Homo sapiens: one gene and its partners. The protein of the gene in region 1 purifies or fractionates together with the protein of each later gene. This does not show direct contact. Each region holds a gene or a part of one and is shown in the gene's direction. Other genes may lie near its edges. The genes, in order: TRIM67, CORO1A, SIPA1L1 and KIF1A.

Region 1 (7,754 bases):
CTGTTAAAAAAAAAAACCCAAAAAACTAAAAGAAAAAATATCATAAGCTTTCATTTAAAATTTGTTTTAGAGATTCTTACACTTGAGATTACAGCATCTGATTTTAGCTGATAAAGCCTTCAATTCCATTCTGCTTCATGCTTGAAATTCGAAGCATTCTGAAAGGAATGCAGATGATTTACTTCTAACTTGCTGTGTTAGCTGGAGTAAATTATTTAACTGATTTGTGCTTTTTTTTTTTTTGAGGAGAGGTTACATTACTCAGCCTCTTGAGTGTTTCTGGGACACTTAAGTGTAAAAACCATCCTGCAGTACATTATCCAAAGTAACTCATGGCAGAGTCTGTTTTTCTCTGCCTTGATAGCAGTAGATTGTGGAGTTTTAATTACTAATGTACTTTCCATGAGGCCAAGTGATGATAAGATGCACCATCAATTTAATAGGAAATTTTCAAAGCAACAGTAGGGAGAGCAGAAGTATGTATCAATTGTAGTATACTTTTTAATTTCAGCAACATTAAAATGTAAACATTTATACATATTAAAATTGAGGAAATGTGGTGATGCCTAATTCCCAGAGATGTTCTGAAAATTAAAAAAGGTTCTCATTCCACACTGTTAAGTGTTACAATGCAAATATTATTACTTGCCTCACCCACCCCACAGCCCAGCCTTTAATAATATATTAGGGACTTGAAAAAAAATAGATATGTCATTCAATTTGGGGATCAAATTTTTTTGTGAGTGTCATTTTTTAAAGGGGGGACTATGTTATTCGTTTTTTGTTTTTTTTGTTTAGACAGGGTCTCACTCTGTCACCCAGGCTGGAGTGCAGTAGCACAATCTTGGCTCACTGCAACCTCTGCCCCCTGGGGTTAAGCAATTCTCGTGCCTTCGCCTCCCAAGTAGCTGGGAGCTTGTGCCACCATGCCTGTCTAATTTTTCTATTTTTAGTAGAGACAGGGTTTCGCCATGCTGGCCAAGCTGGTCTTGAACTCCTGACCTCAAGTGATCCACCCGCCTCGGCCTTCCAGAGTGCTTGGATTACAGGCATGAGCCACGACATCCAGCCAAGGGATATGTCATTCTCAACAACAGCTAATACACAGAGACTGTAGAACCAGAAGGAATTTTTTTTTTTTCTGAGACAGAGTGTTGCTCTGTTGCCCAGGCTGGAGTGCAGTGGCAACATCTTGCCTCACTGCAACCTCCACCTCCCAGGTTCGAGCAATTCTCCTGCCGCAGCCTCCTGAGTAGCTGGGACTACAGGCACCTGCCACCATGTCTGGATAATTTTTGTGTGTTTTGTTCGTTTGTTTGTTTTGTTTTGTTTTGTTTTTTGAGGCGGAGTCTCCCTCTGTCGCCCAGGGTGGAGTGCAGTGGCGCGATCTTGGCTCACTGCAAGCTCCACCTCCTAGGTTCACACCATTCTTCTGTCTCAGCCTCCCGAGTAGCTGGGACTACAGGTGCCCGCCACCACACCTGGCTAATTTTTTGTATTTTTAGTAGAGATGGGGTTTCACTGTGTTAGCCAGGATGGTCTTGATCTCTTGACCTCTTGATCTGCCCACCTCGGCCTCTCAAAGTGCTAGGATTACAGGCGTGAGCCACTGCACCTGGCCAAATTTCTGTATTTTTAGTACAGACAGGGTTTCACCATATTGGTCAGGCTGGTCTCGAACTCCTGACCTTGTGATCCAGCCGCCTCGACCTCCCAAAGTGCTGGGATTACAGGCTTGAGCCATCGCACCCGGCCCCAGAAGGAAATTTAAATTTCAGTGAATTTTATCCCCAAAGTTTATAATAGGGAGAAACAGAGGTTCAGAGAACTAAAATGACTTCTCTATATGCATATGGTTCATGGCACAGTTGAGACAGAAAGAGGACTTTTTATAAATAATGTTGACGATTGTTAGCAATTATGATTATATACAGTGAAGCATTGAAGCCAGCTTTGTAACTTCAGTTCAGACAAAGGAGTGGTAGGATGCTAATCCCCCAAATGCACAATGTTTTAGCAAAAGTACAGTGCACGGATAAGCTGATTTATGTTGTAGAATTGAGGTGGTGGGGATTGAGAGTGAAAGCTGTCAGAATCCAAATGGAGTCACTAATGTTAAAAAAAAAAAAAAAGAAAGAAAGAAAAAAAGAAAAAAAGCCCTGACAGAGCCATGAAGGGAGAGTTTTCGTGCATAAATACCTCGTAACAAAAATGACTACAAAAGACTCCAAAACCTACAATCTTGCAGAGAGGCCATCATAACCCTACACCAAAAAATACTTCTATCAGGACATCTGCCCAGCAACTACCTGTCCAGCCTTGAGCTGGCATCACCCCTGTTATTGATATTTGTAGCCAAGGGTAATTATTTCAAAACAATTATTCAATCTTCCTCATTTTTTTCCCTTAAAAACCTCTGTCTTCTGTTACCTCCCTGAATACACACAGAGTTTACTATGGCAAGCATCTTTCCATTGCGGTACTTTTTTCCCAAATAAACCTCTCTTCTTTTAGAGAGCCTGTCTCTTTGTTATTTAGGTGACAAGAGTGCATGAGAAATGCATAGGTGTAGAATTCTGATGTACTAGATCACCTCCTCCCCGTGGAAAACAAAACTACACTCAGTCTGAGTGGAGGAGTGCTTGAACTGTAAGTCCTTCTGTACAGGAAAGGAGTTACACACCCCTCCAGGAGGCCACCCCTACCCCCAAGCAGTTTGTTTTGGTCCGAAAATGACAAAGGAGACTGGACTTCAGCCATATGGCTGCTGGTTTGGGGCAGACCTGTTCACAGTAGAACCATAAGAGGTTATGACTTCCCTTGTGGTCACCAGGAGGCTGGGCTGAGCCGGCGTAAATGATGGCACTTGCTAGGGTCACAGAAATGCATCTTTAAGTGCATTCAATTACAGACCTACCCATACACTGCGTTTCTGACATGACCCTGAAGATTCCATAGCACATTTCTGGAAGGCTTATCTGAGAGTTGCAGGCAGGATCCAGCTCATTGTGGCTTTATCTACACAAGGCAGATGAGGACAAGGTTGTTACCATCTCCCATCTGTGGCTACTGATGCCTGGTTAAATAATTGTTCCAAGTCCCCTAGCTGAGGGGAAGTAGAGTCAGGTCTCTTAATGCTGTGCGATGCTCTATCTGGCCTTAGCTTGGCCTACTCTTCAACTTTGGCACAAACTGGAAGCAAGCTGCAAAGCCGGACTAAAGGTTCATAGGATTTTAAAACAGAGCCTGGCGTGGTGGCACAGGCCTGTAGTCCCAGCTACTTGGGAGGCTGAGGTAGGAGGATTGCTTGAGTCCAGGAGTTCGAGGCTGTAGTGAGCTATGATCACGCCACTGCACTCCAGCCTGGGCGACCCAGAGAGACTCCAACCGCCGCCCCCACAACAAAAACAGAAAGTAGGAAACGCCGTCTGTATTTGCAACTAGCTCGTTTAGTTCTCAGACATGAGTATTATGACAATATTCATTTGGCATTTCAGGATCCGAGCGAGGGAAAGCCTAAGCGAGCTGCTGAGTGGGGCCAGTGGTCCCGGGGCGTCCTGACTTCCAAGGCTCTGGGCCTTCGTGCTGCGGCCAGGAGCGCGTCGCCAAGCGCCTCCCCAAGGGTCCCCCTGCAGGGGTTCCTGTCCCCTAGGCACAGAGCCCCAAGCCCTGGGCGCAGGCTGCAGCTTCCCCCTGCCTGACCCCGCCAGCCTGCGCCTCCTCACCCGGGGACTAGCAGAAGCCTGGGCCCGCGCCTGGCGCTACGACTCCGGTCTTTAGTCTTTGTTTGGAGCACGGGAGAACCTGGGACGGAGGGAGGCATGACTTCAATATTCATATCGTTGTTAAATAAACGATTTCCTAATTTGTATCTGTTTCATGCCAGCGTGAAACTTCTGTAGGCAGAGCCGGCTGCGCTGCCAGCACTTTCTTCTGCTCGTCCCCACCCACCTCTGCCTCCCCCACCCAGCCTTCCCTCGGCAGCAGCGGGGAAGAACAGCCGAGCAGACCAAACAGCCGGGGCCGCGGGTGGGAGGCTGTTCCCGCAGCTCGTGGCTGGCGTTGGAGAATGTGGAGATTTTCCCATTCATAAAAGGAACGTCTCCGCTTGCCGCCTTCCCGTCCGCCGCACACCGCCACATCCGCAGCGGGGTAGGGCTGGGTCTGGGGGCGCTGGGTTCCCAGGGGTCTACCCGGGCGCGCTCTCGCCTTTCTCAGGAAACCCCATTTTGTGAGCGGCACCGCGTGTCCTCTCTCAGTCCGTGCACACAGTTGACCTGGAGCGCGGATGAGCACCCTTGGTTGAAAGGAAGAGACAAAATGGCTTGTGGTTCAATTCATAAATAAAACCTCACCCTTGGACTTCAGGCTGCCCGACATTTTGGGACTTGGATTTTTTTGCTTTATCGTAGTTTTAGGAAGCGACTGTCAGGCCATGTTGCCTATCCATTTCTAAACGACTGGCTTTTTAGGATCCCGTTTTCACCCTTCTATGGCGGTGGGTTGGGGGTGGGGTGTGGAACTGGAGTGGCCCAGGGAGACGATGGCAGGGGCGGGGCGGGGCAGGTCGTTGTACTGATTCAAGATACAATCTCCATCCAAATAATGGATTGTTATTAACAATGATCCTCCCTGCAAAACCCTTAAAATTGCCCCTTGATTCCCTAGCAGCAAGAGGCGAGCCCTTATTCGCTGAGCTGAAGCCTCCTCCCCCCTCCTCCCCATTACTCTCTGCTCTGGAAATTACAACTCCTCGGCGCGCCGCGCGGGGAGGCAGCGGCAGCGGCGGGAGGGAGGCGGGGAGGGGATTCCCGAGCCAGCCGGACGCTCGCCCTCCGCCCGCCGGCTGCAGCGTCGCGCGGCCCAAGGTCAGAGGCGCCGCAGGAGCAGCAGCTGGGAACCAGGGAAGCGGGTCAATCCCGGCCGCAGGGAGAAAGCCCCAGGGCGCAGTCAGCCGGCGTCCACAGCCGCCCAGGAGTAGGGTGAGCGGCTGTCTCCGGGCCGGTCGGGTCCCGCCGAGGTGGCCGCGGCCCCAGCGACCCGGCGGGTGGCGGCCCAGGGGTCGGCGAGCAGGCAGCTGGAGCCCCACCTTCGGCTCCCGGGCGCTGTCCGCCGCCTCGTGGTGCTGATCCCAGCCCCACGGCTGAGCGGCCTTCGCACCTGCCTGTCTCACCTCGCTATCACCCCGATAAGGAGTTGGGCCGGGGCAGAAGGGGGGCCTCGGGGTAGCCGCCCACCGGAGCCAGGGGCTGAAGCAGCGAGCGCACAGCAGCCCGGCCGCTGGTCCTGGGGTGGAGAGGAGGCGCGCGCTGCAGCCGGCGGCGGCGCTGGTGCTGATTCATCACCTAAAGCTCCTCGCAGGCCACCGCGAGGGCAGCCGACCGGCTCCGGAATCTGGCCGCAGGTTGAAGCCGCTGGTGCGGGACCCTCGGGCAGGAGGTGAGGACCCCCTCCCTTCTCTCGCCCCTCAATCATCTTAGGGCGGTGGCTACAGGACAGAGAGAGGGGCGTGCCCCTCGGCTGTGAAGTGGGCATGCCCGTGTGATGCCCCCGCCCGTCGTCTCACCGGGGCGCACCGCGCTGGTCCTCCTCCGCCAGTCTCCCGAGCTCCGGCCATTCATCCCCAGCGCAGAGCAGCGCTGGCAGCCGGCGCCGCGATGGAGGAAGAGCTGAAGTGTCCCGTGTGCGGCTCTCTGTTTCGGGAGCCTATCATCCTGCCCTGTTCCCACAATGTCTGCCTGCCTTGCGCTCGCACCATCGCGGTGCAGACCCCGGACGGTGAGCAGCACCTGCCCCAGCCGCTCCTGCTTTCCCGGGGATCGGGGCTGCAGGCGGGCGCCGCCGCCGCTGCCTCTCTGGAGCACGACGCTGCGGCTGGCCCGGCCTGCGGCGGTGCAGGCGGGAGTGCAGCTGGCGGCCTCGGCGGCGGTGCGGGAGGTGGCGGAGACCACGCGGACAAGCTCAGCTTGTACAGCGAGACAGACAGCGGCTACGGGTCCTACACCCCGAGCCTCAAGTCCCCCAACGGGGTTCGCGTGCTGCCCATGGTGCCCGCACCACCCGGCTCCTCGGCTGCGGCGGCTCGGGGTGCCGCCTGCTCCTCGCTGTCCTCGTCTTCGAGCTCCATCACGTGCCCGCAGTGCCACCGCAGCGCATCCCTGGACCACCGCGGCCTGCGCGGCTTCCAGCGCAACCGGCTGCTCGAGGCCATCGTGCAGCGGTACCAGCAGGGCCGCGGGGCCGTGCCGGGGACGTCTGCAGCCGCGGCGGTGGCCATCTGCCAGCTGTGCGACCGCACCCCGCCAGAGCCAGCAGCCACGCTCTGCGAGCAGTGCGACGTCCTCTACTGCTCTGCCTGCCAGCTCAAGTGCCATCCATCCCGGGGACCCTTCGCCAAGCATCGCCTGGTGCAGCCGCCGCCGCCGCCGCCGCCGCCCGCCGAGGCAGCCTCCGGGCCCACTGGCACCGCCCAGGGCGCCCCCAGCGGAGGCGGCGGCTGCAAGAGCCCGGGAGGCGCGGGGGCGGGGGCGACTGGGGGCAGCACGGCCCGCAAGTTCCCCACGTGTCCCGAGCATGAAATGGAGAACTACAGCATGTACTGCGTGAGCTGTCGAACCCCGGTGTGTTATCTGTGCCTGGAGGAGGGCCGGCACGCCAAGCACGAGGTGAAGCCGCTGGGGGCCATGTGGAAGCAGCACAAGGTGAGCCCGCGGGACGCGGGAGTGCAGGTGCCAGGGAAGAGGGTACGAGGAGAAAGGCTTTTGGCCTCTCCCTTGGAGAGCTGACAGAAAGTCGGTCAGAGGGTCAGGCAGGAATTACCTCACTCATTAGCCATTCATTCCATCAGATAGTCATTTGACAAACAGGTAAGGGACTCCCGGTACTTTGGACTGGATGCTGGAGATGGGAAGGGTATGGAAAGATGACTTATTAGGTCCCCACCCACCCGAGGTTTTAGGATTTATGTAGGCACAGGGCACCCAAAACGCAGACACAGGGCTCTTTTACTCCCAACGTCTGACTAATAAGTTACCTTGATGGTCCCTTTTGAGTTAAGGCATGCAGGATCTCCTTTTCCCCTCTGCCACCCTCAGCAACTTATGGCTGGCAATGTGTCCTTGTATCTGATACTGCGAGAAAGAGAGGAGCCATCAAAATCTGGTTAGGTCCTTGATCAGACCCCAAGTCAAGACTAGAGTTGGTTTTTCTAACATTCACCTAAATTTCCCATCCAAATGCCAAAGATGAGCAATTGGACTCACTTCCCCAGAGGTCAATGAACTAGGCCTGGCAGAGTTAGAATCTTGTGGGAAGGACCCCTAACCGCCTCTGGAACTTCAGACACCAATTATTCCTTGTAGTCTTACCAGTAAACAGTCACCGCAGAGGCAAGAGGTCTCCACACAGCCCAGCCAGAAATATATATTTGAATTGAGGAGGAAAATAAAGTAATTGGCCAAGGCTATCCAACTGGAAATAAGCAAAAAGGTGAGCACAGATGAGAGGAAGAGACTAAGAGACTAACCATTCCTATATAGATTTGTTGTTCATATATAGTTACTCTATAGTATTATCTGCTATAATGAGCATACGTTGTTATTATAATTTAACATTTTAGAATAACAAATTAGAAAAAACAAACATGAAACACTTTAGGAATCCACCTTTAAGAGGAGAATTTGCATAATACATATGAAAAAAAGATAAATATGCAGTCAAATCCCTAGTTCTAGAGCAGTAGTTCTCAACTGTGT
Region 2 (7,340 bases), on another chromosome or scaffold:
TCCAGGGTAGGTGTAATCAGAACTTTTTCAGCTGCAAGTGCCAGGAATCCAACTCATACTTCTTGGCTTACGTGAAAAAGAAGTGCATTGCCTTATACAACAGGAAAGTTAAGGGTTTCAGGCACAGCTTGATCCAGACACTCAAATGATCTCAAGAATATGTCTCTTCATATCTGGCCTCTTCAGGCCTCTGTGTAGACCCATCCTAGCCAGCTTTTTGCTGTTTTTTTTGTTTTTGTTTTTTGTTTTTTTTTTTTTGAGACAGAGTCTTGCTCTGTCGTCCAGGCTGGCGTGATCTCGGGTTACCAAAACTCCCACCTCCTCAGTTCAAACTATTCTCCTGCCTCAGCTTCCCAAGCAACTGAGACTACAGGTGCACACCACCATGCCTGGCTACTTTTTATATTTTTAGTGGAGACAGGTTTTGCCATGTTGGCCAGGCTGGTCTCAAACTCCTGGCCTCAGGTGATCTGCCTGCCTCGGCCTCCCAAAGTGCTGGGATTACAGGCGTGAGCCACTGCACCTTGCTCTGACCAGCTTTTCCTGCATACCAACAAGATATCACCAGCAGTGCTGGGCTTACATCCTATCAGCTTCCTAACTCCCAGTGGAGAGAGGGCATCTTTTTCACAGCAGCTCCAAGGTGAGTCTTGGGCACAAGATGAATCAAGTGCCCATCCCTGAGCCAATGAAAACAGGTTGCTTTGGTTGGGAAGCACAGGCCATGTGAATACGCCAGGTCCCCTCCTGAACCTCATGGAGTGCCTGTGAGGAGAGGTTGGTTCCCCAAAAGAAAATCCAATAAAGAGGCGACGGGACCAGGCACGGTGGCTCATGCCTGTAATTGCACCACTTTGGGAGGCTGAGGCAGGAGGATTGCTTGAGCCCAGGAGGTCGAGACCCACCTAGGCCACATAGTGAGATCCCGTCTCTACCAACAATTTAAAAAATTAGCTAGGTGTGTTGGGCATGTGCCTCTGGTCCCAGGTACTCGGGAGGCTCTGAGGATGGATGGGAGGATCGCTTGAGCGTGGGAGGTTGAGGCTGCAGTGAGCTGTGATCGTGCCATTGCACCCCAGCCAGAGGGAGACCCTGTCTCAAAAAAAAAAAAAAAAAAAAAAAGAGAGAGGCAATGGTAAGAGCTAAACCAGCAGGAACAAGAGAGGCAAAGGTCCCCCTTTTTTTTCTTTTAATTGAAACTGGGTCTCCCTCTGTCACCCAGGCTGGAGTGCAGTGGTGCAATCATAGCTCACTGTTAGCCTGGAACTCCTGGGCTCAAGCGAACCTCCCACTTCAGCCTCCTAAGCAGCTGAGAACACAGGCACATGCCACCACAGCTGGCTAATTTCATTTTTTTTTTTTTTAAGAGATGGGGTCTTGCTATGCTGCCCACACTGGTCTCAAACTCCTAGGCTCAAGTGATTCTCGCCGCTCCTGGGCAAATGCCCTCTGACATCCCTTATAAGGACACCCTTTGAAAAGGTTGTCCCCCTCTCAAACATGGAGAGCCTTGCCAGGGCCTTCCCCACTCACTGCTGTAACTAATTCTTATGCTGCATGGACATCTGCTTCCCAGAACCTCCACCCACCAGCCTTGCCCCTGACCTTTGTGGCAGCCCCAAGGCTGCCCACCCCTTCCCCTGCTGCAGCCCACTTGGCCTCTGAAAGCAGCACTGTCTGCCTGCACCTTGCCCTCTCCAGGGCCGTCAGGCTCGCCACCTTCAGGAGCCTAGTTTTCAGGTCCTTCACCAATGCCCTCGTCCTGTGGGTGGACATGAGGCCCTCCAGAGCTGAAGGCAGTGTGTGCTTCAGTTTCTGCATCTGTAAAATGGAGATAGTATTTGCTACCCAGGGGTGCTATGAGGATTACATGAACATAGTATAGTGTCTAGAACAGTGCCCAGCACATAGTAGGCACTCAATAAAAGCCAGTTATTATTCCTGTCACTTCTGTGGGAGACGGCACATCAGAGTACCCACCTTATCTCGGTCTAGTCCCGTCCAGTCGCAGGCCTTTGAGTACAGTACAGCCCTAAGGTTTTTACAATTGAATAATCTATAAAAGATTTACAGATTTATTGTCTCATTTGAGCCTAGTAACTTTTTTGTTGTTGTTGAGATGGAGTCTTACTCTGTTGCCCAGGCTGGAGTGCAATGGCACAGTCTTGGCTCACTGCAACCTCTGCCTCCTGGGTTCAGGCGATTCTTCTGCCTCAGCCTCCCGAGTAGCTGGGACTACAGGCGCACACCACCATGCCCAGCTAATTTTTTTTTTTTTGAGACGGAGTTTCACTCTTGTTGCCCAGGCTGGAGTGCAATAGTGCCATCTCAGCTCACTGCAACCTCCGCCTCCCAGGTTCAAGCAATTCTCCTGCCTCAGCCTCCAGAGTAGTTGGGATTACAAGCATGCACCACCATGCCCGGGTAATTTTTTTTTTTTTTTTTTTTTGAGATGGAGTCTCGCTCTGTCACCCAGGCTGGAGTGTAGTGCCACGATCTCGGCTCACTGCAACCTCCGCCTCCTGGGTTCACACCATTCTCCTGCCTCAGCCTCCCAAGTAGCTGGGACTACAGGCGCCTGCCACCATGCCTGGCTAATTTTTTGTATTTTTAGTAGAGAGGGGGTTTCACCATGTTAGCCAGGATGGTCTCCATCTCCTGACCTCGTGATCTGCCCGCCTTGGCCTCCCAAAGTGCTGGGATTACAGGCGTGAGGCACTGCGCCCGGCCAGAGCCTCATAACTTTGTGAGGTGGGCAGTTCAAATCTTATTAATTCCCCATTTACCAATGACAAAATGAGGTTCAGAGAGATTAGCCCTCTTGGCCAAGATCGCACAGCCAGTCAGTGGCAGAGGTGGGACTTGAACCCGTCCCTTGCTGTTCCTTGAACTTCTCCACACGACAGGGCTGTCCCTCAGCCTACAGGTCACCCCTCTAGCCTTGCCTGTTGGCTCTTCCTAATCCTTTCAGGCCCAGCCCAGATACTTTTTAAACAAGAATGATGAGAGCTAACTTTTTTTAAAATGAGACGGTCTTGCTCTTTCACCCAGAGAAGACTGGGTGATAACAGTGGCTCAATCTTGGCTCACTGCAGCCTCTGCCTCCAGGGTTCAAGCTATTCTCATGCCTTAGCCTCCTCAGTAGCTGGGATTACAGGGGTGCATCACTACACCACGCTAATTTTTGTATTTTTAGTAGAGATGCGGTTTTACCATGTTGGCCAGGCTGGTCTCGAACTCCTGACCTCAGGTGATCCGCCAGCCTTGGCCTCCCAAAGTGCTGGGATTACAGGCGTGAGTCACTACGCATGGCTGAGAGCTAACGTTTATTAAGCACCCGCCACTTTCTAGATGAGGTCCTTACTGACTTCCTTGGGTTATTTTAGGTAATCATCCCCATACCTCTTACGTGGCAGGTATGACTGTTACAGAGGGAGAAACCGAGGCTGAGAAAGGCTAAGTAGCGGCCACACCTCACTCAGCAGGTGACAGGCTGCGGTCGCACTCATGACATAGTCTGACTCTAGAGCAGGCCTTTCCTGCCCGCTGTTGCTGCCTCCAGAAGCCTCTCTGAATCCAAGGGTGGGAACTATTCCTCCTTGCCCTCGAGCCTTCGCCAAAGCCAGGGCTTGGAGCGGCCGTGGGCTCCTCCTCCTTCCCCCAGGCTGGGCTCTTCAGGGGCGGAAACCTGCCTGGCTTGCCTGCCTTGCTCGACCCTGTAGCCCCTGGCACGAAGTAGGTGCCCGTGATGCCGGATTATTTCAGCAGGAGGGCAGGGGTGTTCCCGATGAAGCCAGGAGATCCAGGGAGGAGAAGCGACTCCCGGGGCCACCCATGCTTAGATCTCAGAGCCAGGCAAGAGCCAGGTCCCGGGGGTCCAGGAGCGCGCTCGGGGCTCCTCCTCGCCCGCGCCCCCCGCGCCCCTCGCGCCCCCCGCGCCCCCCGCGCCCCCTGCGCTCGCGTCTGCGGGGCCGGGAGGAAGGGGCGGCGCAGCCGGGCCGGGGCGGGCACCGAGGCCTGGCGGGCGGGCCTGGGGCGCTTTCGTGCCTGCCAGGGAAAGGCTGGCGAGGAGGCTGGGGGCGGACGCAGGGAGGAAAGAAGCAATGGGGTGCTCTTGCGTTTTGACATTTTAAAAAGAAGTTTAGATTCGCTTCCCGGAGCCGGGATGGCAGCCTGCGCTATGGTTGGGGACCAACGTGGTGCACGGGCAGGGGCCGGGGAGAGAGGCGGCCGCAGCGGGAGCCCGGGAGCGCAGGGCGGGCCTGGAAGAGCTCCGCCCCAAGGGGCGCGGCCACCCCGGAGGCGGGCGCACGGCTGCTTCTCATTCATTGTCTTGACAAGAGCATCTTCAGCGGGCGAGTCCCCGGCTCCTCCAGCTCCTTCCTCCTCTTCCTCCTCCTCCTCCACCTCCGGCTTTTGGGGGATCACTGTCCTCTCTCGGCAGCAGGTGAGGCTGGGCCTGGGAGGCGCGGGTGGGCCGGGGCGAGGGCCACCTGTGGGGCGGCGCGCGCGTGGGAGCCGCGGGCTGCGGGGGCGCGCGGCTGTCACCGCGACCCAGCCAGCGCCGGGGCCAGGTAGCGGGCGCAGCAGCCCGTGGGGGGACGCTGCTTGGAGTGGGGGCCGCCGGGGCCCCAGAGCGCTCTGCGGAGGCGAGGGCTAGGGACCACCGCGGCCAAGATGGAGGTGGGTGGCCGGGGGTCAGCACAGTGTCGAGGGCCCGACTCCCCACGGAATTGAGTCTCGGGGAGGGTGGGGACGAGGGCAGGGTGGGGTGAGCGGGGCAGCTGCCCTGGGCTTGGAGACAGGAAGGGGTTGAGAGCAAAACAAGAAAAGACCAAGTTCCCCTTTCCGTGGTTTCCGGGCCTGGTACCTGTGGTGGGGGAGGAGGCAGGGTGGGGCGATGGCTTCCTGTCCCCCACCTCTGGTCCGGGGCTCCCCTCTCTCCAGATACAGGCTGCTCCTCAAGACTGGGGCTCTTCACATACGCTCCTCACCGCTCTTTGGGCAGGCCGACCTAGCAGCCTCTTCGGGAGTCCTGGGGTGGCCGGGGGTGCTGGAGCCCCCAGTGAGTAGGCGAGGCTGAGGCTAGGGGCAGAGGCTCTGGGCATGGCACCCTCCAAGCGGCAGCACAGGCCCCTTCCCTGAGCAGGAAGGTGATGCGGTGGCACAAGGTCGCCCCTGGAGTTCCTTGCTCCCCACCCAGACACTGGGGGAAACCATCCTACCTGGACCTCAGAGCAGTCGGAGTGGCCTCTCCCTTCCTGTGTGCAGTTTACATGGGGGTGGAGATGGCTCTTAAGGGCACCTGCTTTTCTGAGCGGAGGCGAGAGGCAGAGGTATGGGGAGGAGGAGATACCTGGACCTGAGCCAGAGACCTGCTGGGGAAGCTATCCTGCCGCCTCACTCCCCTCAGGCAGCCCCCACGCCACTTCCTCCTGTGTCCAGCCCCATGCCAGCAGGCGAGGGAGGCCAGCTCCTGTCCCTGCCTTTAGGAAGCGCTGTGTGGGTGTGAGGGAGGTGGGCTCTGGACACGGTAACTAAGAGAGAACCCACCCTCGGAGCCATCTGGGCTGATGACGCCTGAGTCTGAACCATTAGGAAGGACGGGCTCTGCATCCATCAGCCAGTCAGTCAACAAACATGCAGTGGGGCAACACCACGCCAGGCTCTGTTGCAGAGGCTGAGGGTACAGATTGAGAGGGTGGCTCAGAGTGGCCTGGGGCCAGGGAGAAGGGGGCTTGCAGGTTAGAGGGAAGGAGAGGCTGGGGAAGGCAAGCAGGCATCAGCCACAGAGGGAAGAATAGGGAGCCCCTGGAGATGATGCTGGGACCTTAAAAGCCAGACTGAGGGGTGTCCTGGGGGAGGTGGGGACCACTGGAAGATCAGAGTTGACCTGAAGGGAGAAATGCTCTTATGCTGTGTGCCCCCAGAATGAGCCGGCAGGTGGTCCGCTCCAGCAAGTTCCGCCACGTGTTTGGACAGCCGGCCAAGGCCGACCAGTGCTATGAAGATGTGCGCGTCTCACAGACCACCTGGGACAGTGGCTTCTGTGCTGTCAACCCTAAGTTTGTGGCCCTGATCTGTGAGGCCAGCGGGGGAGGGGCCTTCCTGGTGCTGCCCCTGGGCAAGGTGAGCCCCTGGGGCCCTGGGGGGAGCAGCTCCTCCACCGGACCCATGGCTCTGTGCAGGTCCTGATTAGGTGACGGTCACCAGGCCTTCCAGGGCCTGTGTTGCCATCTGGAAAACTGAGCTGGGCCCCATGAGCCTTACACTTCCTCCAGCTCCTCTGTGCTGTGGCTGTGTGGAAACTGACGCTCAGAAGGAGCCAACACAAGATGGGTCACACCAGTGACCAGGACTACAGACAGTCCTGCAGACCCATGATCAGCCCTCCTGAGCCTCAGCCTGGGGCTTTCTCCCCATGGAAACACAGAGGGGGTTGGGATGGGGTCTGGGGGCCCTGGCAGCGTTCTCAGGGTTGGGAGGGACTCTGGCTCTGGGCCTGTCTGAGGACCTAGCAACTCTGTCCCCCAGCTCGCAGGCAGGGATGATGCAAGAGGTGCTCTCCCCCACCCGCAGCCCTGCCCTCCCCTGGAGCCTGCTGCCCCCTCCGCTGGCTGGCTGCTGCCCCGCACCCCCAGCACACTCCTGTGCTCTTTGGGGGGTAAGACAGGAAGGGGAGATGGGCCCCAAGTTGTTACCTTAAAAGGGCTGATGGAAGCAAAGAGAAGAGGAAGTGGTTGTCGGGGTGAGAGCTGGGCCCGCGCCCCACATGGCTGTCACACAGGAAGCCCTGCTGAAGCAGCTGTCCCCGGAAGAAGCCATTTCCAAACCTCTGCTCCTGCCTGGGGCCAGTTGGGACAGGCTCCCTGGCCCCTCTCCTTTTGGGAGGACCCACCCCTGCAGCCCCACCACTCACACTCGCTCTCTGGGGAGCTGCCTCCACCCCCCCAGCCCCCATACACCTGTCCTGGCTCCAGGGCCAGTTGTGCCCATGGAAGCCTCACTCGGGGAAGCTGGGGTGGGGGTGCCAACCCTAAGGGCAGAGACAGACTGAGACAGAGACCGGCGGGAACTCTGCCAGGGTCTTGCACGGCCCCCAACCTCTGCCATGCGTGGCCAGCCCTCCTGGGGTTTGCCCAGGCCATTTTGGGACTGGAACAAGAGAAGAACAACCCGCCCCCGTCCCCACCCCAGGCCCTGGTCCAGCTCCCAGGGACACCACAGCTTTCCTCTCTGGGCCTCTCTGAAGGAGGTGTGGGGAGGTTGGATTGGGTTTGGGAGGCAAAAGCACCTCCAAGGCCCTGCTGTGCCTTTAGACTGGACGTGTGGACAAGAAT
Region 3 (7,021 bases), on another chromosome or scaffold:
TCAAGCTTAACAAAACCTTAGAAGCGTAACTTTCTTCACTGAACTTTTTTAGCTACGAGGGTGAGTGGGAGGGAAATGTGATTTTCCTTTTTGATCCTTCCTGTGTCCAAACAGGCACATTTTAAGTTGCTTTCTTATCTCTAAATTCAAATACAGCTTTATCATGTTACATGTTTTGTATCTATAACTTTTCTATTCACTTTGTTAATTTTACCAAAAGTTTTTTTGACTCGACTTTGTTTCCATCAGTGTTGTCTCTTTCAGAGAGTGAACATTAGGAGAGCAGGAACTAGATTTATCAACTGTTTTTCTCAACTCTTCCTGCTTTTTGTTGAAGGGAGAATACAGAAATGAAAGGAGGTAGAAATTCCATTCTAAAAAGTTTTACGCTGATTCATAAATCTTAAATTATCCATGACATTGCACTAAGATGTGTTTCAGGCTAACTTGAAAGAGTGAGCCATCCCTTCTGTCTGAGATGCAACTTTTATGTAATGTGAGTGGAATTCAGGAAAGCCAAGAAGGGATGTAAAGAAAATAGTTTGCCTTATTTGATTATCTTAGCTCATCTAATATTCAAGTACTGTGAAGTTATATTTCTGTTTTTAAATAGTGTTTTATTACATTCTGAAGTAAGAATATTTACAGGCATTCTAAGTCTGTGTTTACAAGTTCAAAAACTATTTCTATTTTTTTGTTGTTTGTTTAAGAGCCTGGGTATTACCATGTTACCTAGGCTGGTCTCAAATTCTTGGGCTCAAGCCATCTGCCTGCCTTGGCCTTCTAAAGTGCTGGGATTACAGGCACAAGGCACTGTGCTGGGCCTGGAAATTTTCATAAATACTTCTGAAGTGTATATCTCTGAATTATTGGGGCATTTGAATAGTTATTCATCAGCACAGTTCCTTCTACTGCCCTGAAACATTGAGAGCTGGCGTTGTATTTTAGGCTGTACCAGTTAAAGAATCTGAGAAGATCTCATTTTGGAATGTGGAAGTATTTTATGAGGAACGCTACATCTTTCTGGTGACCCTACCATATTGCACTGTAATTCTTTCACAACAGGAACTGTAGTGTTCCCCCAACCCCACCCCCTTCCCACATCTTCTTCTTGTAACCTTTAAACTGCTCTTTATGCCCTTGGCACGATGTTGTTTCTTTCATTCTATTCCTTGAATTAGGAATAGAATGTGCTCCCTTCCTTACCACTTAATCATTTCTTGAAAAAAAATTTTTTTCATTATTCTGCTTGTTGGTTATTTCATTGTAAAATAGGTAAATAAAGAAGATGTCAAATGAGCACCTACCTCTATTTTATCTGAAGTTTAGTGGAGAAGATCATGACCAGAGATTTGGAGGTAACAGCATAGAGATGATATTTAAAGCTGCAGGCACCTACAGTATCAACAGACAGAGTACTGGTTGCCATGCAGATTTCCAGCCAGTAACTTAATTATTCTGCCTTTGTTCAGCTGCACAGACAAATGTGAGCCAGCCCAATCAACACTCTGCTTTCCACAGTGATATTATTACTCCAGTGGACCCATGCTTCTGTCTCATCCTAATACACTCAGTGCTCACATGCATCCTGATAGAAATACCTTTTATACCCCTTTCCAGAAATATGAAAAATGTCAAGAGAGATAAACCATAGACACCACCTTTTCAATGGACCCCAACTAAAGACTGAGTAGTGGGCAAAAAGAGGCAAGAGAAAATGAAGAAGCACATGGTTATCACAGAGGTCCAGAAAAGAGAGGTTCAGGATGGAGGATGGGTTCAGGAGTACAGATGCTTCACAGAGCCAGAATGACAAGGGATTTTTGGCAATCAAGAGATCCCATAAGAGGTTCTGCTTTCAGCATTCTCAGGGACTTGATATTCTAAATGGCTGACCTACTGTGGTACAATTAGTCCCAGCAGGAGATTGTAAGCTCTGTTATTAAAGAGCTTACAATCAAAATGGAAAGTGTATAGGAAGGAGGCATGACCCATGCATCCCCCGTCATCTTCTTACTTGTCTGTGTCTCCCTGCTACACCTGGAGCTTTCCTTGAAGGAGGGACTGGTGGATGTATGGTCCATGCTCTGAAGACACTACAGAAACACAGGGGGTGATTTGGATGAGAGGAGGAAGCATTTCTTCTGGAAGAATGGTGGGTTAGGTTGTGAGAGATCTTGAGTGATGAAAAGACTTTCAACTAGTTGAATTGAACTCATTGAACTAAACTGTGGGCCCTCTAGATGGAATTAGTATTCTAGCTACCTGGATCTACCATAGACTTAGATAGTATCTAGAGCTGTAAAATTAAACATGTAATAAGGAAAATTTTTATATAGCCTGCTCTTTCAACAGATGGAGGTGACATGCTGTGAATTCGTATTGCTCTTCTGTTTAATTCTATTGCTTTTTACCATATTGGTACTTAGGCAGGTTTGCTGATATTTAAGAGAGTTGCTGATCATTGTCAACATAGGTTTGCTGTTTCAGTCAACCCTAAGGAATAGATGTGAAGGTATTATTGATCTGTCATCATATGATACACATCGATGGACAGCATTATTTTTGACTGGTAGTTTAATAAGTGCAAAGCATGTATATTTCCATATATGCTAGTCAGTGCCCAAAGTTTATATTGTACCCCAAAGGGGTTTGATGCTATAAATAAGAATGAGAAAAGGGAGGGAGGGAGGGAGGGAGATGGAAAATGAGAGGGAGAAAAAAAAAACATAGAAAAGGAAGGTCCTTATGACTGAAAAAAAATCTGTTATTTAACATAATTGCCCATCTCGAACCTCATCAGTTTTTACAAGCCATTAAAACGTGGCTTCTCTCTCTCCCATGTGCTTATTTATATTTTGAAATGAAAAGAAAACATTGAGTCGTTGTTATATAATGTAATGGGAGTCTTGAAATTTCTTTTGAATTGGTAAGAAATTTTTATATTTAAAAATAAGATTTTATAAACTCATTAAAAATATTGGAAGTATATGAGATGGTTTGGAAGAGAAATACTGATGGTGGAGACTGAGCATTTCCAAGTCAGTTTTATTTCTTGTATTTTACTGCCAGCTTTTAGTTTCCTCCTCTAATGGAAATAACTTCACATATCCTGGGAAAGACAGCTGTGCAGTAAAGTATTTTCTAAGGCACATGAAATGTGGCAAGAGTTTTTATCATGGTGGGATTGGTGTGTTGTCCTTTTAGAGAATGAATGTTTGGGGAATGAAAGATGATTTATTTGGATTTCTGTGAGGTTGTGAGAAATGTTGAAAGCATCTAATTTTTATAAAATCTACTTTAGAAGTATTATTTATGCTATGTAGAGTATTCATTGAAATAATCAGCTTTTGGGGAGATGTTGAACAGGTGTTTGCATTTTGGTTCAGTTGTTCAATTTTCCTTCCATTTTATGAGAATCACTTCTTGAACCTTTGCTATGGCCATATATGCTGTCCTTTGATATCCTCGGAAGCAACAGTTAGCATGTTTTGTCACTTGAAGGGTTATCATTGAAAGAGGAACATGTAAAGTTCTGGAATGTAAAGGGAATAATAGCAGTCTGACAGTAGAAGTATCTAGAAAGCTCAAAAGCCATGTTTAATTAGGTAGCAGTGCAAAACTATTATCCCTTTTACAAAAGATGGTGAAGAGGAGTGCTAGTGAAAACAAATGGCATTTATCTGAATGGCTCCACAGACTCAGCCAGCACGAGCCCAGCCAGAGCTCGCCTCACCCTGCATTCTGCAGGCAGCATGCATTTTTTTTTTTTTTTTTTGAAACACCCCTACATGTTCCAGCCTTTAAATAGCAGCGAGTCTTCTAAAGTGATGCTGTGTGCTGCAAGAGAAATGAAAGCGCCTGCCTTGGAGGCAGGAAGCCGACTAGGGAGATGCTTAATTATCGTGGAAGTAGGTGCTTGTTACCATTGAGTGGAGAGTGCAGCAAGTGCAGGTCGTCCTCCGGTGTCAGAGCCGTGATTTGTAGACAATGCCGCCCTGTCAGCTCAGTGCTGGTTCAGCAGCATCTTTCCAAACATGTATTTGGCAAGAATTTAAAGGCCACCTCTTGTGTAATTTGTGGAGTCTTGGAAAAGGAGCCTCTGCCTTTCTTTTCAGAATGTACGCAACCATGCAGAATTTTGTACTCAGAATCTGTGTCTCCTGCCTTCTGCCTGACGTGCTCATGAGGAAGTTTGTTTCCATGCCCGTCACCTGGAAGGATGCTAACAGTTCTCTGTAATCTGTTGGGGATATGGAGAGGGCCACCCAGAGCTGTGTTTTGTTTCTGCCGTCTTCATAAATTAGCACTGATGGGGTGGAGTAGGTTGTACTGCATGAGGAAATGCAGGCATTTTGTTCATTAGTGAGATACTTCTAGCTTTTAAGAGTACAAGAAACTAAGGAGAGCTTGGGAAGAGGTGGTGGTGAATGCTGGATTCATTCTGCAATATCCTCGTCTCGGTAAGTAATAAAGTAGAGGAAAATACAAAAGAGTGCTAATGGATATAATGGCTCTGGGAAAACTCTTTTTATTTATTTTTTCCTGCTGTATTTGTTTTTGCCAACTATGTTAAGCCTTTGTAAGGAAACAAAAAACATGTATTGATTTTGGAATAGAGGAGTTAAAAAGTGATTGTTGCAGCATATTCAGTAAAGTCATTTTTCAGTTTTTACTTTTGTCAAAAAACTCTGTTGCTCTAATTATCTTATTCACTTGGTTACATCTCAAACTTCTGGTCATCACAGTAGCTCATGATGTTCTACATTTTTAGAGGTCATTGGAGCAAAAGTCTGTACTTTGGGTAGGAGCCATGATATCCAGAACAAGATGTACCCCTCCCCCTGCCCCCCATTTTATGAAACAGTTCAATTAAGATGAAGTCTTAATAGTTTTTTTTTTTAGAATATAAATTATGGATTTTATCAAATGGTTTTTACTTTCTTCCTTTCTTTCAAACCTGCTTTACTAAAAATACGGATTGTGGAACTGTGAATCCTAATCCATTATTGAGTCTTTTATCTTCATGTGTCTGGTTTTGACAATTGCATGTTTGTTTTTAGATGTATTTATCTGCTAATTCAAATTATCCTTTTCTCTTTTAGAGAAAGCATGGGATTATGGCAACCACAGAATCTCAGTAGTACAAGTTCCATTCAGTTTTTTCTGAAAGAAAGCCCTCTGTTAAAGTGAAGCAAAGAAACTGTTGTGGATTATAACGTTTAGAAGTTCCAATTTTTCAGTGCTTTACAAATAAAGCATCATTTAACCTTTTAAATGAAAAAGATTAAGATCTCATGCAACTGTTGTATTTTCTGGAAGCCATTCTCCAAAAGGGAAGTGCACATTTAAAACACAGATATGATGGTCCTTGCTGCAGGGATTTAAGTCTACTTGCTTTTACATCATGACCAGCTTGAAACGGTCACAGACAGAAAGGCCTCTTGCCACTGACAGGGCCTCTGTTGTTGGCACAGACGGCACCCCCAAAGTCCACACTGATGATTTCTACATGCGGCGCTTCCGGTCCCAAAATGGCAGCTTAGGATCATCAGTTATGGCTCCTGTAGGACCCCCCCGAAGTGAAGGTTCTCACCATATAACCTCAACCCCCGGAGTCCCAAAAATGGGGGTAAGGGCAAGGATTGCAGATTGGCCCCCAAGAAAGGAAAACATAAAAGAATCTAGCCGTTCAAGCCAGGAAATAGAAACCTCAAGTTGCCTTGATAGCCTGTCCTCCAAAAGCAGTCCTGTGAGTCAGGGAAGTTCTGTTAGCCTCAATTCCAATGACTCAGCCATGCTGAAAAGCATACAGAACACGCTGAAAAACAAGACAAGACCGTCGGAGAACATGGACTCCAGATTTCTCATGCCTGAAGCCTACCCCAGCTCCCCCAGAAAAGCTCTTCGCAGAATACGCCAGCGAAGCAACAGTGATATCACCATAAGTGAACTTGATGTGGATAGCTTTGATGAATGTATCTCACCTACATACAAGACTGGACCATCACTGCACAGGGAATATGGTAGCACATCTTCAATTGATAAACAGGGAACATCTGGAGAAAGCTTTTTTGATTTGTTAAAGGGCTACAAAGATGACAAATCTGATCGAGGTCCAACTCCAACCAAGCTCAGTGACTTTCTCATTACTGGTGGTGGCAAGGGTTCTGGTTTCTCTTTGGATGTAATAGACGGGCCTATCTCACAGAGAGAGAACCTCAGGCTTTTTAAGGAAAGGGAAAAACCACTCAAGCGACGTTCAAAATCTGAAACTGGAGACTCATCTATTTTTCGTAAATTGCGCAATGCCAAAGGTGAAGAACTTGGGAAGTCATCAGATCTTGAAGATAACCGATCAGAAGACTCTGTCAGGCCCTGGACATGTCCAAAGTGCTTTGCCCACTATGATGTCCAGAGTATATTATTTGATTTGAATGAGGCAATTATGAACAGGCACAATGTTATTAAGAGGAGAAACACCACCACTGGAGCTTCCGCAGCTGCCGTGGCATCCTTGGTCTCTGGACCTCTGTCTCATTCAGCCAGTTTTAGCTCCCCAATGGGCAGCACAGAGGACCTGAATTCCAAAGGAAGCCTCAGCATGGACCAGGGAGATGATAAAAGCAATGAGCTTGTAATGAGCTGTCCATATTTTCGGAATGAGATAGGTGGAGAAGGGGAGAGGAAAATCAGCCTTTCAAAATCAAATTCTGGCTCCTTTAGTGGATGTGAAAGTGCCTCCTTTGAGTCTACCCTTAGTTCCCATTGCACAAATGCAGGAGTGGCAGTACTTGAAGTGCCCAAGGAGAACTTGGTGTTGCACCTAGATAGAGTGAAAAGATACATCGTGGAACACGTAGATCTGGGTGCATACTATTATAGAAAATTTTTCTACCAGAAGGGTAAGTAGAGATCCTTTATTTCTTACATTTTCTTTTGCAGTACTTTCTGAAGAAAAGTACTGTATATTAAGATATTTATTAACAATGTGACATAAGATTTGCATGTCTTATCTTTC
Region 4 (7,021 bases), on another chromosome or scaffold:
ACATTGTGTCTGCATTCCGGGCAGCACAAAAACAGAAGTGTTCCATCCCCACAGCACCCCCAGAGTCTGCAGTACATAGGCCGTGGCCAGACCTGGGCTGTGGCCTCCCTTCCAAGTGCAAGAGGTGACTGGAAGTGTGGGCGTTTCTTGCTGGTCATAGTAGTGAGGGAGAGGGAGGGTGGGGAGCAGTGGGCAGGGGCATCTGCAAGCACATCCCCTCTCCTTAGTTACAGCCGAATTATTCCAGCTTCACATGGGGATGGTGTGACCATCTCACCAGATGGTGGTGAGGTTGCCGTGAGGAGGCGCTGGCAGAGCTCTTCCCAGCGAGTGCTTGGGACTCTTCAGCCATGCACAGCAGCTGCCCCCACTTCAGGAAGACAAAGGGGCCAGCTGTTCAGCAGTTAGCGTGTCATCCACCAGGAAGTCATTTTCTGTGGTGTTTGGGTTAAAATGTGCACATTCAAACAAGACCTGGTTTGATCCTCACAGACATTCCAGGGTCGGGGAGGGGTCACCCCAATTTTATGGTGAGGCAGCTGAGGCCCGAGCAGTGAGCCTATGTCTGGGACCCTCGGGGTCCCCACACATGGAGACCAGTCCCTCAGGCAGCCCAGGGGTGGACAGAGCTGTGGCTACCTGTCCCCAGTGGGGTTTTCTCGAGGGCAGGAGCAGAGACTTTCTCCTGCCTGCGTCCAGGCCACACCTGAGGCCCTGGGAAGGCCCTGGGGCTGCCTGTCGGTGCTGGGCATTGTGCCCCCAGGAGAAGGCTGGAAGGGCACCTGGGCACTCGGGGTGTCCTTGTGCCTGAGTCCTGCTCCCGCCTATCTCAGATGGAGAACTGCACCCAGCCGGCTGTTGTCACCAAGGACTTCTGCATGGTCTTCTATTCCCGTGATGCCAAGCTGCCAGCCTCGCGCTCCATCCGCAACCTCTTTGGCAGTGGGAGCCTTCGGGCCTCAGAGAGGTAAGCTCCCAGGGGTGAGGACCACATGGACTCCCACCCTGGTCTCGGTGCGGGCCAGGCAGGGCTCTGCCTGGCAGCGGTCCTTGGGCCACCCGGCAGCTCACCCTGTGCGAGGCCCAGCCACACTCCTGGCTGGCTCCCTGCGCTCAGTCCCCTCCTGCTCACCCTAGATGAAGACTCTGTGGAGGCCATGGTTCCTGCAGGGGACACTGACACCACTATGAGGGACTTGAGGGCCAGCCTGCAGCGGATGGGAGGAGGGGCAGGCCCAGGGTGCCCACCTGGGGCCTCCTGTGGGTGATCCTGGGGCCACACCGTTCCCCCCCCCCCCCCCCCGCCGCCGGTGACCTTCTTCCCTGAGGACCACGGAACCTGTGCCATGGGACTGACTGCCCACAAGGCACTGAAGGAGGAGCTGGATAAGTGGGCGGTGGCTGGAAGGGGGCTCTGGACACAGCTTCCCACAGGACCTGCTGGGTGGCTCTTCTTGGAGGCTGTCAGCACCTTGGGGAGCCACACACCGAACACCAGGACCAGCCGTGCTTGCGTGCTGAACACGCTCCTGATTCTTGGGGGTGGGGGAGAATGAGCCGGAATGTCAGGGCCCTGACAGCAGGGCTGCCGAGGCTACCGGGCACCCGTGGCCACCTTCAGTGGGTCTCCCTGTGGTCTGCCACATGGACCTGGTGTCCAGGTTCACACTGGGCACAGCTGGGAGGAAAGAGCTTGGGGGTCAGGATCCAGTGTCCTTGAGGGCTGGCTGTGGTCATTCTGGAGGTCACTCAGTAATTGTGGGATGCCACCGACCTGTCTGTGGGAGGGTGGCCGAGGTGCTCTCAGAATCTGTCCGGGGCACAGTGGGGCTGCTCTGTGGGGTATGGGGCCTGAGGGGCTCTCGACGCCGTGGAGGGACTGGAGATGCCAGATGCTGTGCTCATGTTGCCTGTACCCCACTTGGGCTGGGACAAAGTGGAGGCTGCTGTGGGGGCCTGGCCTCACGTCACAGCCCCATGGGCACCTGAGCAAGACCAGCCAATGCATCTTTTCTCTGGGGGCCGGAGGGAGTCTGGGATGAGGACTCTGAACAGGGGCTGTAGCTCAGGGACCTCAACACCCCATCACCCCAGCCAGGCTGACTGTGCGTTTGATAGTGGGGCAAGTCAGCAGCCAGGCTGGCTGTGTGTCCCTGTTGCGGGGCCTGGTGACTGCATGTCACTCCTTCTACTCCCCACAGTAACCGTGTGACTGGTGTGTACGAGCTCAGCCTGTGCCACGTGGCTGACGCGGGCAGCCCAGGTAGGTATCTGCCCTGCTCTCACTGGGTGGGTTCCTGGCCTGCTCAACCTCTGCCCACTTGGGGTGACCACAGCGAAGCTGCCATTTGCAGGGGGATCCCTCACAGAACCCAAGCACTCACCTTGTGGCTTCTGGAGTTGTTCTGAGATGGGAGGAGAGCGAGGGAGGAGAGTCAGGCCTGCTGGCTTCCTTGGGTTCCCAGGGCACAGCCGAGATGGCCATGGGACGCCGGGCTGGATAACTTCCTATGGAAGAGGCCTACATGGCTCTTTGGGCCCCAGGGTGGACCAAGGACCAGGGGAAGCCCATCTCCACTCCAGAGGGGAGACAGCTTCACAGATGGGCGGACCTCTAGGATGGGTGGGAGGAGCAGCCACCCATCAGGTAGGGGTGGAATGTCCACGTGCCCCATGCAGGGATGCAGCGCCGGCGCCGACGAGTCCTGGACACATCTGTGGCCTATGTCCGGGGCGAGGAGAACCTGGCAGGCTGGAGGCCCCGGAGTGACAGTCTCATTCTGGACCACCAGTGGGAGCTGGAGAAGCTGAGCCTCCTGCAGGAGGTGAGGCAGCCTCAGAGGATGAGGCCCGCACGGTGGTGTCCATGTGGCTTTGTGTGCAGAGCAAAAGCTGGAGAGGGCCCAGGGCCTGGTGCCTACTGGGGGGCAGCACAGCTGCTTGGGAGTCACAGCCACCTGCAGGAGGAGCATGTGATGCTCCAGTGTGCACTGCGGGGCTGCGTGGTGTATGACAGAAACATGGCCAGTGTAGCACAGAGGCATGCTCTGGAATTAGCCGAGGAAGACTATCGGGCATATAGACAGAGGCCAGAAAGGGACCCGGAAGGAGAGTCGCGGGGCTGGGCTGCCCTCTGCGGCTTTGATCAGGGAAACCAACATGCAGCATCTAGGCACTGCCTCGGGCCGAGTGTGTGTGTGACACGTGACGCGTGACGTGTGAGATGCGTGAGGCCAGGGCTCTGCCCACCCCTCGGCCCTCTCCTGAGGCCTCCAGCACTGCAAGGCAGCACAGCCCTGCCCCAGAACCTGGCGCGTGAGATGGATGTGTCTGAGAGGAGCAGCTTGCTTGCTGCCCATGAAGGTGGCAGGGCTGGGGTGGGGGCTGAGGGCTGTCAGCCCCGGGGCGCCAGGGTCTGTTCCCTCATTTCACAGCTGAGGGCTGTCAGTCTTCAGTCTTAGCCCAGGGGAGGGTGGGCTCTCCGGGGTCTGCCCAGAGGGTCATGCTGCTGCTGAGGCTGAGCACAACTCCGGAGGTCACCCCTGAGGTGCAGCAGGTAAGGCCTTGTGTCCTGTCTGAAGGTGGAGAAGACTAGGCACTACCTGCTCCTGCGGGAGAAGCTGGAGACCGCCCAGCGGCCTGTCCCGGAGGCACTGTCCCCGGCCTTCAGCGAGGACTCTGAGTCCCATGGCTCCTCCAGCGCCTCCTCCCCGCTCTCGGCTGAGGGCCGCCCATCACCCCTGGAGGCTCCCAACGAGAGGCAGCGGGAGCTGGCCGTCAAGGTGGGTCCAGCTGGTGGGCAGTACAGCCGTAGCCCCAGGCCCTCAAGGGCCCTGAGTCATTTCTGGGCAACTCCAGCAACCCGGCCTTGCCCATGGCTGCTCTGGTTAGCACCACCAGGAGCTAGGAGCTTGAGGGGTCCCTAGGGTCCCCTTGCCCACTGACTGCACCCCACCTGCACTGAAAGTTGGGTGCCTTTTGCAGCCTCCCTTCCCAAGCGATGAATCACTCTCTTGAATACCTGTGCTGATGGGGAGCTCACCACTTCCACCCACAAGTGGCTCTTTTGGCGGCTGAACGGGCCTCTGGGAAGGCTTCCTGCGCCTCCTGCACTGGAGGCAGCACAGCCTCTGGCCCTCACACCAGGCCCTCAGCCGGTGCCTGACCCTGGGAGACTTCCTGGGCTCACCCGATGACCTGGGCGGGGTGGAGGTGCTGCCCACCTTGACCCACTGTGCTCTGGCGTCGGAACCCACCTGTGTCTGGGGAGGGGTGGGTAGAAGAGCCTGCAAGGCTGTCTGAGCAGGGTCCCGGGAGGCCTGGCCCCTGACCACGCGTGTGCTCTGTCCACAGTGCTTGCGCCTGCTCACGCACACATTCAACAGAGAGTACACACACAGCCACGTCTGCGTCAGTGCCAGCGAGAGCAAGGTGGGTGCAGAGGGGCTGCACCAGGCTGCCCCGCAGGGCTCGGGCTCCCATAGGCAGTGGTCCCTGAGGAAAACTCCCATTCCAAGTGGGAAAAGGCAGTTAAGAGTTTCCTAGGAACACGTCTCAGTGCAGAGGGACACCTCATACCTAAGTGGCTGGTTTCCCTGGGTCGGCCTGGGGTCCATGGGAGGTGGGGATGTGAGTGAGGGGCCGGGTGGGTCCTGTGGCCTTGGATGCACCCATGCACTTGCAGGCTTCTGCTGTCTTCCTGGCCCCCACCCTGTCTGGCCATCACCCTGTGGCCTCTGGCCCAGTCAGTCAAGCTCCCACTTGGCTGTCCCTCCTCCTCCTGGGACCGACCCCACCCCTGTAGCCTGGGAAACTGCTGCTGTGCTGCATTATGCGTGGAGCTCCAGCCCTGGCCCATGGCCTTCCTTGTCCCCATGGCATCACCCAGCGCCACCTCACGCTGGCATGGGCAGGAGGCGGCAGGGCAGAGCTTACCCAGCCCACTCCTCGAGGCATTGGCAGGGTGGCTGCCTGGGTCAGGCCAGAGCCTGAAGTGATGGGAGGGGCCGGCCAGGGGCCACAGGGGCTGGAGGGGGCCGGGGGTCTTGAGCTGGCCAACTTTGAGCCAAGGCTGCTGGTAGGAGGGGTGGGGTGCCCTAAGCAGCAGGTGTGGGGTAAGCGCAGGCACAGGGAGCAGCTCCCACAGAGGCCGGAGACCCCCCTTCCCTGTGTCCCCTGAAAAAGGCCTCTCCTCCGCAGCTCTCCGAGATGTCTGTCACCCTGCTCCGGGACCCGTCGATGTCCCCTCTAGGGGTGGCCACTCTCACCCCCTCCTCCACTTGCCCCTCTCTGGTTGAAGGGCGGTACGGTGCCACTGACCTGAGGTGAGTGAGCTCCAGGCTCCCGGAGTGGCTTCTGGCACCACGGCTGACCCATGACCATGGCCGTGACTCGGGCACAGAGAGCACAGAACAGGGGGCCCCAATGGCCGAGTGCCTTGGGGTGGCCACAGGCTGAGGGAAGGGCCTGGAGGAGTGGAGTCCGCAGCCCTCTCAGAGGGTGCCTGTGCCCCGCCAGCTCCATCCTAGTGTGTGTGTGTTCTCTTCCCTGAAGAAGACCAGAAATGGGTGGAAAATAAGCTAAAGCTCCCCTTTCCTGAGACAGTGCTTATAAAATAATGGAAAAAGAAAAGGTTACGAAAGAGGGCATGAGAGCCGTTAGAGTCAGTATTGTGGAGGGGACACCTGGCCCCTGCAGGTCCGCATTTGGAAGAGACCTCGTGTGAACCCCTTATGTACAATTCATAAGCAGGCAGATGCTTTTCACTCTTGTTTTAAGCGCCTTAAGGGTTCCAGATTTTCATTTAAATAAGAAAGACGGTGGCATCAGCTGGCCTTGTCTTCTGCAGGCCTCCTTGACCACCAGGTCGAGTCGCGTGGGGCCTGGCCCATGTGGGGGGCCCATGCGGGAGGCCATCGGCACCCTCTGCTCCAGTGGCTCCTTGGAACCTCGTGTCACCTTCAGTCTAGTTGTGGAGATGAAGAGATGCTGGACTTGCTTTCACAGGGTGGAGGTGGGGGCAGGAGAGCCACTGGGAGAAGGGCGTGGAGTGGGGCACAGGCTCCCTGGCTGGGCCCCGAGGTTCCTGGGGGACCCTGCCCACCAAGCCCAGCACTTCCTGGAATCGGGCACAAGCTTGGCTATCCTGGTGGACGGGCCCCGGGAGCTCCCACTGTGGGCACAGCTGGAGAGACCCTGCGAAGGTGCCCTACTGCACCTTCTGAGGTGCTCTGAGGAGGGTGAAGCCTGGGGGAAGACGGCCCCAGGCCCAGGGAGGCCTGCAGTGGGCAGCACTTCCCTCTGCTTCCCAGGACCCCGCAGCCCTGCTCCCGGCCAGCCAGCCCAGAGCCCGAGCTGCTGCCAGAGGCCGACTCCAAGAAGCTCCCTTCCCCTGCCCGGGCAACAGAGACAGACAAGGAGCCCCAGCGCCTGCTGGTCCCTGACATCCAGGAGATCCGAGTCAGGTGTGTGGGGCCTCCCTGGAAAGCACCGCCACCAGCTCTGTGCTGACAGGGGACAGGCAGGCCACCCTGCTCCCCATACTGGGGGCACAGGGACCCTCATACTTGGGGAGACAGACAGGTTGCCTGATGCCCATACTGGAGGTTCAGGCAGGCTGCCCCTGACCCACATGGAGGGACAGCTCCATGCTGGGAGGTCAGGCAGGGCCCTGTGACCCACATGCCTAGGCTGGGAACCAGCACAGAGCACAGGGGAGTGGGTGGGGTCAGAGCCAAGGCCCAGGTGGGGAACTCGTGGTCACTGGGTACAGTGTGACAGCCTTCAGCAACTTTAGCTTATTTCTTTAAGTTTTTCCATTTTATGGTGGGGAAACTGAGGCCCAGAGCTGGCTTGGTGGTCTGGTCTCCGGCCTGCTGGGTTGGGGTTCTGCCAGGTGCCCTTCGATGCCTCGACCCACTTTCTGGCTGGGGAGGTGGTTGGCACTGCTGCGTCCCAGCTCTGGGTGGTAGATGGTGAGTGCCCGAGTCAGTCGCTGCCCCCACCGAGGGCCCCAGCGAGC

The links.
Region 2: the proteins of TRIM67 (region 1) and CORO1A purify together in Homo sapiens (affinity purification with western blotting; 2 studies listed by BioGRID, with this or other methods). This does not show direct contact.
Region 3: the proteins of TRIM67 (region 1) and SIPA1L1 purify together in Homo sapiens (affinity purification with western blotting; 2 studies listed by BioGRID, with this or other methods). This does not show direct contact.
Region 4: the proteins of TRIM67 (region 1) and KIF1A purify together in Homo sapiens (affinity purification with western blotting; 2 studies listed by BioGRID, with this or other methods). This does not show direct contact.

What each region holds. Positions count from the first base shown.
Region 1 is NC_000001.11:231,157,313-231,165,066, forward strand, and holds the start of TRIM67 (tripartite motif-containing protein 67), read left to right. Parts: upstream 1-4,745; 5' UTR 4,746-5,657; coding exon 5,658-6,701; intron 6,702-7,754.
Region 2 is NC_000016.10:30,179,279-30,186,618, forward strand, and holds the start of CORO1A (coronin-1A), read left to right. Parts: upstream 1-4,323; 5' UTR 4,324-4,447; exon of another isoform or gene 4,448-4,493; intron 4,494-4,870; exon of another isoform or gene 4,871-5,141; intron 5,142-5,225; exon of another isoform or gene 5,226-5,510; intron 5,511-5,930; 5' UTR 5,931-5,931; coding exon 5,932-6,129; intron 6,130-7,319; coding exon 7,320-7,340. UniProt on the Homo sapiens protein: May be a crucial component of the cytoskeleton of highly motile cells, functioning both in the invagination of large pieces of plasma membrane, as well as in forming protrusions of the plasma membrane involved in cell locomotion.
Region 3 is NC_000014.9:71,582,466-71,589,486, forward strand, and holds part of SIPA1L1 (signal-induced proliferation-associated 1-like protein 1), read left to right. Parts: intron 1-3,832; exon of another isoform or gene 3,833-4,463; intron 4,464-5,105; 5' UTR 5,106-5,407; coding exon 5,408-6,905; intron 6,906-7,021.
Region 4 is NC_000002.12:240,719,217-240,726,237, reverse strand, and holds part of KIF1A (kinesin-like protein KIF1A), read left to right. Parts: intron 1-833; coding exon 834-967; intron 968-2,201; coding exon 2,202-2,263; intron 2,264-2,679; coding exon 2,680-2,825; intron 2,826-3,581; coding exon 3,582-3,782; intron 3,783-4,353; coding exon 4,354-4,431; intron 4,432-5,199; coding exon 5,200-5,324; intron 5,325-6,311; coding exon 6,312-6,464; intron 6,465-7,021.